3 linked regions of the Homo sapiens genome follow. The protein of the gene in region 3 purifies or fractionates together with the protein of the main gene of each other region. This does not show direct contact. Each region holds a gene or a part of one and is shown on either strand. Other genes may lie near its edges.

Region 1 (3,662 bases), on a different chromosome or scaffold from region 3:
AAGAAAGTGAGGAACATTTAAGGAAAACTAAGGTTTAATATAGTCAGCAAATATCATGCAATTTTTTTTTTTTGTAACTTAATACCTGCTCTTCTACTTCCTGATAGACCATTGGGCTTAAAAGGCCAACAAGCTGTCTAAGTTCTTGACTGAATTCAGTCCCAGTTTCCTGTTTACTTAGTAGACGTCTGAGTCCTGAAATGGAATAGCAAAAGGTACAACTATTATTATAATAATAAAATATGATTTTGTTATCTAATCAGTATTAATTTGAAGCTAAAAAGTCTGGCTTAAAAACAAATGAAAACAAGATTAATCATATGATTTTTCTTTTTCCTTTTCTCAGAGAATTCCAGGTTGAAATCTTTAAGATATTCCTCCCTCCTGAGAATTCTTACGTGCTCAATTGTGGTATCTGATAAAAAAAAAAAAATCTGTCTAGACAATCTCTTTAATAAAAAAAAAAAAAAAGGAGTGGGATGGAATCACTGTGGTAAATCAAAAAGTAGAGATAAATTTTTTTTATTTGAACAAAAATACTTAAATGGAGACATTTTAAAGATAAATTACTACAGACACATATTCAGTAAATGCTTGCCCTGTGGAAGCACTTATGCAGATTATTATTAGTCATTATTAGTTGAAAAAGATTATTAAATATAAACATATGGTAACATATATAATTTGGGGCAAATCAATAGGTTCCTGGGAAAACATTATAGGTGAAGTGCTACAACACTAGGATAGTACATTTTCATGCCAAAATAATACATAGTAGTAGTGAAAGGTACAAAGTAAGTACTGTTTCCAGGGTACACTGAAATGATGTATTATAATGTGTGTATTCAAAATAAATACATAAGGTAAAATTGCCTTGTAGTGTATAATTGGGGAAACCACTATATGGATCTTTTAATGCCTTATACTCTCTTCAACACCCAAGTTCTCAGCAGTATTAATAATTGTAAAATATCTTCAGGAATCTGAATAAGTTCTGCTATTGAGATATAAGTCAAAGAAAGGGAGAAGGATTCAGGTAAAATTCCTTTATAACGACTCTGTTGGACATTCACATTTCTTTAGGAATTGAATTACAGAATTGAAAAATGTCTATCTGGCACAATATCAACTAAAGAGCTCTATTACTGGTACTTTCCTTCTCTATTCCTACAATACCCTCAGTAATGACTAATTCAAGGTACATTATTACAATGTCTTCAAAATCATCAAGAATGATAAAGACCTTTCTAGTTGTTTAGGTATTAAATGCATCATATTATATTCTAACCTTTAAAAATTCCCATACAGTATAACCCTATGTTAATAAGTATATTTAATGAACTAGAATCCCATTTCCTGACCACGCTGAATAAGAAAAATAGATTATAATACATACATGGCTCTGGTCAGCAAAGAAATAAAACAAAGATAACATATAACTTTGCTTGGCAATTAAACAATATATATACTACCTTTGTGATCTTGGGCAAATTACCATGTCTCTGTTTCTATATCTATAAAATAAGGATAAGAATATCTATCCCATAGGATTGTTGTAAAGATTAAACATTTTAATGCATATAAAGTATATGGAATGTGCCTGACACACAGTAAATGCTCAATTAAATGAAAGCTATTATATGAGAATGTATATACGCTTACTCCTTTTATCCTCAAAATTTCTGACTTTTAATTCACATATGTATTTGATTTTGGAGGTAAGGCAATTTTTTTTGTTTGTTTTTGAGGAAAGGCAGTGTTAAGTAATTATTGATAGTTCAAAATACCATAAGGGCCACTGGCCTCTCAAGCACAGCTCCATTTTCTCCACTAAAGCTGGTCTTGATAAGGTCACTGATCTTTTTGGTCATTATTTTACTATACTATATGGTATATTCAACACACAAAACCTTTTTGTCAGAGAGGGAGTAAATATTTATGGCAACCTGATCAGAAAAGTATCTTCCACATGCTATCTGTAGTGACATGAAGATAGCTTGATTATATAAAGACTTTTTTTTTTCTGAATTGGTATCTGTTGTGAGTTTTATCTACATAGGTCAGTTATCAACTCTTTAAAATATAAGAATTTTGTTTTTCATAAACCATCAATAAAAATTTTCTTTTTGAGAATCCCAAGAAAAGAAAGAATGAATGTACTACCTTTGTAGCAGGTACTTTGTCTCAGTAAAATCAAAATTTCCTGATGGGATTCAGCCATCAACAGTAGGAGTTTTGTAGCAGTACTTCTTATAACTGGACTAGGAGTTGAAAAAAGCTTGAAAATAACTTCATCTAAAATTGAATACAGGGCTTTTCTTCCTATTCTGAGTAAATCACCACTAATAGAACAAAATAAAAAAAAAAGTACCATTACTAATTGATGTACAGGTATCACAACAAATCTAAAATATAAGATTCAGTAACTTGATGCCGGACTGTGTCCTGATCCAAGAATATAACCACTTTTTCAAATATATGTTGGTTCCAAGAAGATATCATATTCAGTCACTTAATATTTATTGAATTCCTACTGTGTGCAAGGTGCCATGTGTGCTAGGTACAATAGAGAATACAAAGTAGCCAAAGGCCTTCTCCTTAGAGAAGCCTGCAATCAAATCAAGGATGAAATATAAATGTGCAAAATACTAAACAATAAATAATTTAAAAGCTTCAAGGCAATGATAAAAGTGAAATCAAGACAGGTACACAGTTAATTTTTAAATGATGTACAAAGACAAAAATGCCATAGGAATTCTATCATGTGCTTAATATAGGAGAAACTTAAAATCTTTCCTTGGTATTTCCTTCATTATACTAACAACCCATCTTGTATTACTGATGTTGTGAAAAATTATCTAAAACTTAGAAATAGTCAAAAGGAAAGGGTTAGTGAGTATCCTTTTATTTACCCCCTTAAGGAGTTATGTGATTTTCTAGGCGTATGTACCTCTGTTTAATTTTCTACTCACTATTAAAATACTTTACAATTCTGTAAAAATAGAGGTTGGCTGGTAGAAAACAATGCTAAAGATTCTTATCTAAGAGCAATGTAAACAGACTCTTATTCAAAGCAATACAAATGATTTCTGTCCAGTAGAAAAGGTAATTCTAGAAGCTACATTGCTTTATAAGTCATATTTTCCTATTAGCAAATTTTAAAAATCTATCAGCAAATTTACTTCTACATTTCTTCGACAAACCAACTCCATAAATCTATTTTCCTCAAATTCTCCTTTGACCCTGTATAAATATCTTATTTGTTCCCTCATTAATGAGTTGCATAAAATTTTGAGCAGTCAAATTTTATATTTGTATAAGACTCATGTTTGAGCTTTTTGAAAATTGTACTTTAGTAGTTACTAAAATAATTTTGTTAAGAGAAAAGAGATCAGCAACATACCTTAAATGTAAAAATCTCTGAGTTGAAAGACTTTATAAAGTTATCCAATCAAAATATGTGAGAATCTTTGTGACATCTACTTCTGTGCCACTGTGTCTCTTACATGCTATTCCCTATGCCTAGGATGCTCACCCTGTCCCATCAGTCAATGTCATCACACTATTCAAAACTCAGATTAAAAAATATGCTCATCTCAGAAAGCCTTCTACAGATATCCCTATCCCAATCTTATCACATCTTTACTCCATATCCCACCAAG
Region 2 (3,662 bases), on a different chromosome or scaffold from region 3:
TATGTAAAAAATTATGCAGAGGGATAAATGAATAAATGATGAATGAATGAATGTGCTATTGTTTATTCATATTACACAATAGCATATATATATGTTAGATCTACATAGGTACACGTTTAGATAAAACAGGCAAGCTGCAAATATATATAATTATGCAAGTTTTTAAAACAATTCTAACATGAGTTAATATTTGGAAAAAGTTACAAAATATATATGAGAATAATACCCTCCAAAATTGGTGACCAGGTACCAGAAGAAAGGGGGTAGGTAGTCAGGGGGTTAGACTTTAGTTGGTATTATTTATTCATGCACATAATTGTATTTATCTTTCTCTAAAAGAGAACTGAAGCAAAATGTAAAAAATGTTAAATCTAGATCATTAATAAGATGGTTATCTATTTTATAATTTTTGGTACTTTTCAGGTTATTTAAAGACACTATTAAGACAGTAAAGATGGATACGCTAATTACCCTGATTTGATAATTACACATTGTATACATGTATCAAAATATCACTCTGTATGCAATAAATATGTACAATTATTATATGTCATCTAAAAATAAAAGTGGTGGAAAAAGGGCAAAACAAGGAGTAGACGATACTTGCAACACTAATATCTGACAGAGAATTAATATCCAGAACATACAAAGAATTTTTTCAATGACTAAAAGGCACATGACCTAATAGAAAAATAAGCAAAAGATTTGAGTAGGCATTTCATAAAGAAGATATCCACATATCCAATAACTACACAGATAAGTACTAAACCAGAGTTGTCATTAGGGGAACACAAACTAAAACCACATTCTACTCCACAAGAATGGCTACAATGAAAAAGACAGAATTCCAAACATTAGCAAAAAAGAAAAAAAACACCAATAACATTGCTGGTGGGAGTATAAACTCGTATTAAATACTTTGGAAAGAGGTTTGGCAGTACCTACAAAAGCTAAATATACATACACCTTAGTGTTCAGAGCAGCACTCTTTTTTATTTTTTAACTTTTATTTTGGGTTTGGGGTACAAGAGAAGGTTTGTTACATAGGTAAACACGTGTCATGGTGGTTTATTGCACATGTTATTTCATCACCCAGGTATTAAGTCCAGTTATCTTTCAGTTAGTTATCTTTTCTACTCTTCTCCCTCTTCCCACCCTCCCCACTCAAGTAGATCCCAGTGTCCGCTGTTGCCTTCTTTGTGTTCATAAGTTCTTATCATTTAGCTCCCACTTGTAAGTAAGAGCATGTAGTATTTGGTTTTCTCTTCTTGCATTACTTTGCTAAGGATAATATCCTCCAGCTCCATCCATGGTCCCGCAAAAAAGATCTCATTCTTTTTTATGGCTGCATAGTATCCCATTGTGTGTTTAAAACAGGAAAAGTATAGCAGTCAAATTACTGAGCAGAGGAAAATGAAAGAACTGGATTCAAAAAAAAAATTTTCATCGTTATAAAAATGTTTAAACATACAGAAAAACTGAATACCCATATACATAGTGTCTAGACTCAACAACTGTTAACATTTTGCTCAAACTGCTTTTATCTGTATCTGTATGCATATGTTAAAATTTATTAATTTGCATAAAGTAAAATTCTTCTTGCCTTTTCTAAAGTATCAGATAAATGGAGTCATTCAATACATAATTTTTTAAATCTGGCTTCTTGCATTAAGAACAATGCATGTGAGTTGCATCCAAGCATGTATCAATTAAGAACCACACTGTAACTGATACAAAGGTAATCTTTAATTCAAAAGGCTTTATTATTATTAGGTAGATCTTTTTGATCAGTTAATAAAGAGATAAAGTTGGTCTGCCACAATGGTTTACTCCTGTAATCTCAACATGCTGAGAAGCTAAGATGGGAGGATTACTTAAGGCCAAGAGTTTGAGAGCAACCTTGGCAACATACTGAGATCCCATCTCTACAAATAAATGAAAAAATCAGCCAGGCGTGGTGGTGGCATGTGCCTGCAGTCCCAGCTACTCAGGAGGCTGAGTGAGCAGGAGGATCACTTGAGCCCAGAAGGTGAAGGTTACAGTGAGCTATGACAGTGCCACTGCCCTCCAGCCTGGGTGACTGGCTGGCTCACTTAAATGTAATTTTTTATACACCTCAGATATACGATCAATGAGGAAACAAGAAGACACTTTTATATTATTTTTCATCCTAAGGGCAGAAAACCATATTTTTAGCATGGTATGACCCAAGTAAGGAAATTATTTAAAGCATTAATTATACTGTTTGCATTCTGTGGCTCTTTAAAACAATGAGGTACATTCCCTCTTTTAGAGAAATAAGTTACCACATAATACAGTCACTGTTACACAAGTAATAGAATATAATTTTATTCCTACCTGATCATCATCTTCTACAACCACCAAGGTTAATTTATTCTTCTTAAAATCCAATCTGGTTATCTTCGGCCTATAATATAATAAGAGAATAAAAGCCAAATTACAAACAAATGTTCTCTAAATATGAAAAAAATTGTTTTTATTTCAAATACATTTAACCATCTAACTCCTGAACTAAAAATTGACAGGACGGTAAACGTAACTTGCAATGCCCATCAAAAGACAGGAAACAGAAAAACACAGTACATATTTCAAAAGCAAATCTCAGACAAAATTGAGGTTGCACATATCAGACATTAAAAATGTTAAGGAAAATGAAATCTATGTATTTGATAGGTCTCGATTATGGTGTAAGAGATTCTTTAGGTCTAGGGAAAATTGTTCCAGTGTTAAAGCAGAGCAGCAGCATAGGAACTAGACATAGGAACGACCATAAAGCTTAAAAAAAACAGCCATAAAGAAAAACACTGACGATGGTTTTCAACTCTTTTTGTTTGTTTGAGATAGGTTCTCCCTCCATTACACAGGGTGGACTGCAGTAGTGTGTTCACAGCTCACTGCAGCCGTGAACTTCCAGGCTCCAGTAATCCTCCTGCCTCAGCCTTACTCCCACACCACACCAGGCTAATTTTTGTATTCTTTGTAGAGACGGCATCTCGCTACGTTGCCCAGGCTGGTCTCAAATTCCTGGGCTCAAGTGATCCGCATACCCTGGTCTCCCAAAGTGTTGGAATTCAGACGTGAGCCACTGCAACCAGCCTCAACTCTGTTTTCAACAGGAATTTTGGGTAGAGGAAATACTTCTTAATTTTTTTAACCTCGCTTTATGGCCCGCTTTCCAACTGTATCTCCCTACTTGTAAATTCCAAACCACCTACCACACATTTGAACTCTGTATTTCCATAAATTGTGAATGTCGAAACAATGTGACACTCCGATTGACTAATCTTTAAATATAACATATAAAATAGATGTAAAACATAACTTTACAAGAGCTTTACTAAAACAATAATGAAGAAATAATAGCAGGAAAAAGAAAGGAAACAGAATCTCACTCTGTCACAAAGGCTGGAGTGCAGTGGCGTGATCTTGGCTCACTACAACCTCCACCTCCCAGGTTCAAGCAATTCTCCTGCCTCAGCCTCCAGAGTAGCTGGGATTACAGGTGCGTGCCACCATGCTATGCCTGGCTAATCTTAGTATTTTTAGTAGAGACAGGTTTTCACCATGTTGGCCAGGCTGGTCTTGAACTCCTGACCTCAGGTGAGCCCCTGCCTTGGTGGGGATTACAGGAGTGAGCCACC
Region 3 (2,849 bases):
GCAGACATCTGTAATCCCAGCTACTCGGGAGGCTGAGGCAGGAGAATTGCTTGAAACTGGAAGGCGGCGGATGCAGTGAGCCCAGATCACACCACTGCACTCCAGCCTGGGCATCAAGAGTGAGACTCCGTCTCAAAAAAAAAAAAAAGATTTTGCGTCATCTGGCTAGGAGACCCTCTCCCTTATTGTCTTTGAGGAAACAAGCAGCTGTGTTGCAAAGGCCTATGGGGTAAGGAACTGAGGGCGGTCTCCAGCCAACAACCAGAAAGAAACTGAGGCCCTCAGTCCGGCAACTCAAGAACTGAAGGCTGCCAATGACCATGTAATTTGGAGGCAGATCCTTCCCCATTGGAGCCTCAGATGACCCTGTGTCCCCAGCTGACATGTTGATTGCAGCTTGTAAAACTCTGATGTAGGAGACTCAGCTAAGCTATGCTCTGACTCCTGACTCACAGAAACTGTGAAATAATATCTATGTGTTATTTTAAACCATTAAATTTGTGGCAATATTCTTACATAGCAACTGATAAGTAGCAAATTATGTTTAGAGATCCTCTGAGACTGCCCTCAGGTTCAGTGATTCACTAGAAGGACTCACAGAACTCAGCAAAGTGTTGCACTCATAGTTACAGTTTATTACAGTGAAAGGATACAGATTAAAATCAGCAATGAAGAAAGGCACATAAGGTAAGGTCCAAGAGAACTTCCAATTATCCTCTCCTGGCAGAGTCTTCAGGATAATGCTTAATTCTCCCAGCAATGATGTGTGGCTACAATGATGTGTGCACAGAGTATTACCAACCAGAGTAGCTCACCCATGCCTAGGTGTCCAGGGCTTTTACTAGGGATTGATCACATTGGCATGCTTCACTGCCCACATGGCTAACTTAGTCTCCTCAGCTTGACCTTGCAAGGTCAAGCTGATACTGCATGGCCCAAGGCCCACAGGTAAACAAAAACACTCTTATCAGGCAAGATATTCTAATGGCTTAGAGGTTATCTCCCAGGAGCCAGGCAGGGGCCTATTCTTTATTTGGAATGTCCAGGGTTCAAACATCCCAAGTTCATCCTGTATCACACAAAAGGATTAACTTCAAAAGTGGTATTCTTGGCCAGGTGTGGTGGCTCACACCTGTAATCCCAGCACCTTGGGAGGCTGAGGTGGGAGGACTGCTTGAGACCAGGAATTCGACACCAGCCTGGGCAACCTAGTGAGATCCCATCTCTATCGTAATTTTTCTAAAAAGTGGTATTCTTAAGTCAAGTTACTACCCTGATTGATGACAGGGAGAGAGACCAGGAAACCACTGTGTTGTAATCCCTTAGGAAACCTTACACCTTTACTTGCTTTATTATCAGGTAATTTCCAGGATGTAAGCCATACAGCCAGAAGGCAGGGTACAAAGGAGAGGAGGCAGAGATGGTACACTCATACAGAAGCTTCTCCTGATTGTCCACTGAATAGAAGGCAAGCTTTCCCTCCTCAAGGTTCAGCCAGATGCCCACCACCCCAGGTCTGTCTGAGCCAAGGACAGTTTCCTTGACCATGTGCCATGCAGAGAGCTGGCTAGTCCCCTTCCATTCCACACAACAAGAGTCCATAGTCCTTCCCAGGACCTGGTCGCGGCTCATCTCCCAGGAAGCCACCCCAACTGCCCAGTGGCTGCAATTCCTAGTGTCCACTTCCCAGTAATGCTTTCCAGAAGACAGGGCCTGGGAACATAAGACCTGGCTGGTAGAAAACCTCTCACAGCTCCAGCGATAGGGTTGTGGGCGGTGAGACACAGTCACTGTACGGGAATCCTTGGACACCTCCAGGCTGCAGGAAAGGCTCTTCAAGTTAAAGGTTGGATGGATGGCCCCTTTGGAAAAAAAAAAAGAACAATAAGAACATGGCCGGTCATCTTTTGATGGTCCATGCTAAGAAGTCTTCAAATAGCAACTTTGTATCTTTTGGTGTGATGTTTCACTCACACTAGCATTAAAATTGCTACATCACCCAACAGGAAGAAATGATAAATGTTTCAGATGATAGATATGCTAACTACCTTGATCGGATCACTATGCACCATATGTATTGAAACATCACTATGTATCCCATAAATATGTACACTTATTATATTTATTTATTTTTAAAATTTATTTAGAAAAGAAGCAGGATTTTGCCATGCTTCCTAGGCTGGTGTCGAACTCCTGAGCTCCAGCAATCCTGCCATCTCAGCCTCCCAAAGTGCTGCAATTACAGGCATGAGCCACTGCACCCAGACTATACAATTATTATATGTCAATTTTAAAAATCAGGCCAGCTCCTTCAGCCAGGTGCACTGGCTTACCCCTGTAATCCCAGCACTTTGGGAGGCTGAGGCAGGTGGAACACTTGAGGCCAGGAGGTCAAGACCAGCCTGGCCATCATGGCCAACTCCTGTCTCTATTAAACATACCAAAATTAGCTGGGCGTAGGCAAGGTGCGGTGGCTCACGCCCGTCTTATGGTGATTTATGACCACAGCTGTTTATACCTTCCCAGTTAAACTGAAACTTCCTGATTGAGGACCATGTCTTACTCACTTTGTATATTTCATTTGGTTTCCTATTGAGTGAATAAATTGCTAACACTTATACAGCATGACTACTCTAGGTGTTTTACTCATACTCACTCACTTAACCCTCATGGCAATCCCGCAAGAGAAGTACTATATTATCTCCATTTTACAGATGAGGAAACCCAGGCTCTAGGAAGCTTAAGTGACTTGCCCAAGATCACACAGCTAGTTAGTGGAGCTGCTGGGAGTCAAACCCAAGCAGTCTGGCTCTGGGATCCATGCTCTTAAGGACTATCCCAGACTGAGA

The links.
Region 1: the proteins of RNF135 (region 3) and IQCB1 purify together in Homo sapiens (affinity purification with mass spectrometry; 2 studies listed by BioGRID and IntAct, with this or other methods). This does not show direct contact.
Region 2: the proteins of RNF135 (region 3) and EPB41L5 purify together in Homo sapiens (affinity purification with mass spectrometry; 2 studies listed by BioGRID and IntAct, with this or other methods). This does not show direct contact.

What each region holds. Positions count from the first base shown.
Region 1 is NC_000003.12:121,797,033-121,800,694, forward strand, and holds part of IQCB1 (IQ calmodulin-binding motif-containing protein 1), read right to left. Parts: intron 2,343-3,662; coding exon 2,164-2,342; intron 196-2,163; coding exon 86-195; intron 1-85. UniProt on the Homo sapiens protein: Involved in ciliogenesis. The function in an early step in cilia formation depends on its association with CEP290/NPHP6.
Region 2 is NC_000002.12:120,085,937-120,089,598, reverse strand, and holds part of EPB41L5 (band 4.1-like protein 5), read right to left. Parts: intron 2,429-3,662; coding exon 2,359-2,428; intron 1-2,358. UniProt on the Homo sapiens protein: Plays a role in the formation and organization of tight junctions during the establishment of polarity in epithelial cells.
Region 3 is NC_000017.11:30,997,675-31,000,523, reverse strand, and holds the end of RNF135 (E3 ubiquitin-protein ligase RNF135), read right to left. Parts: intron 1,863-2,849; coding exon 1,333-1,862; 3' UTR 613-1,332; downstream 1-612.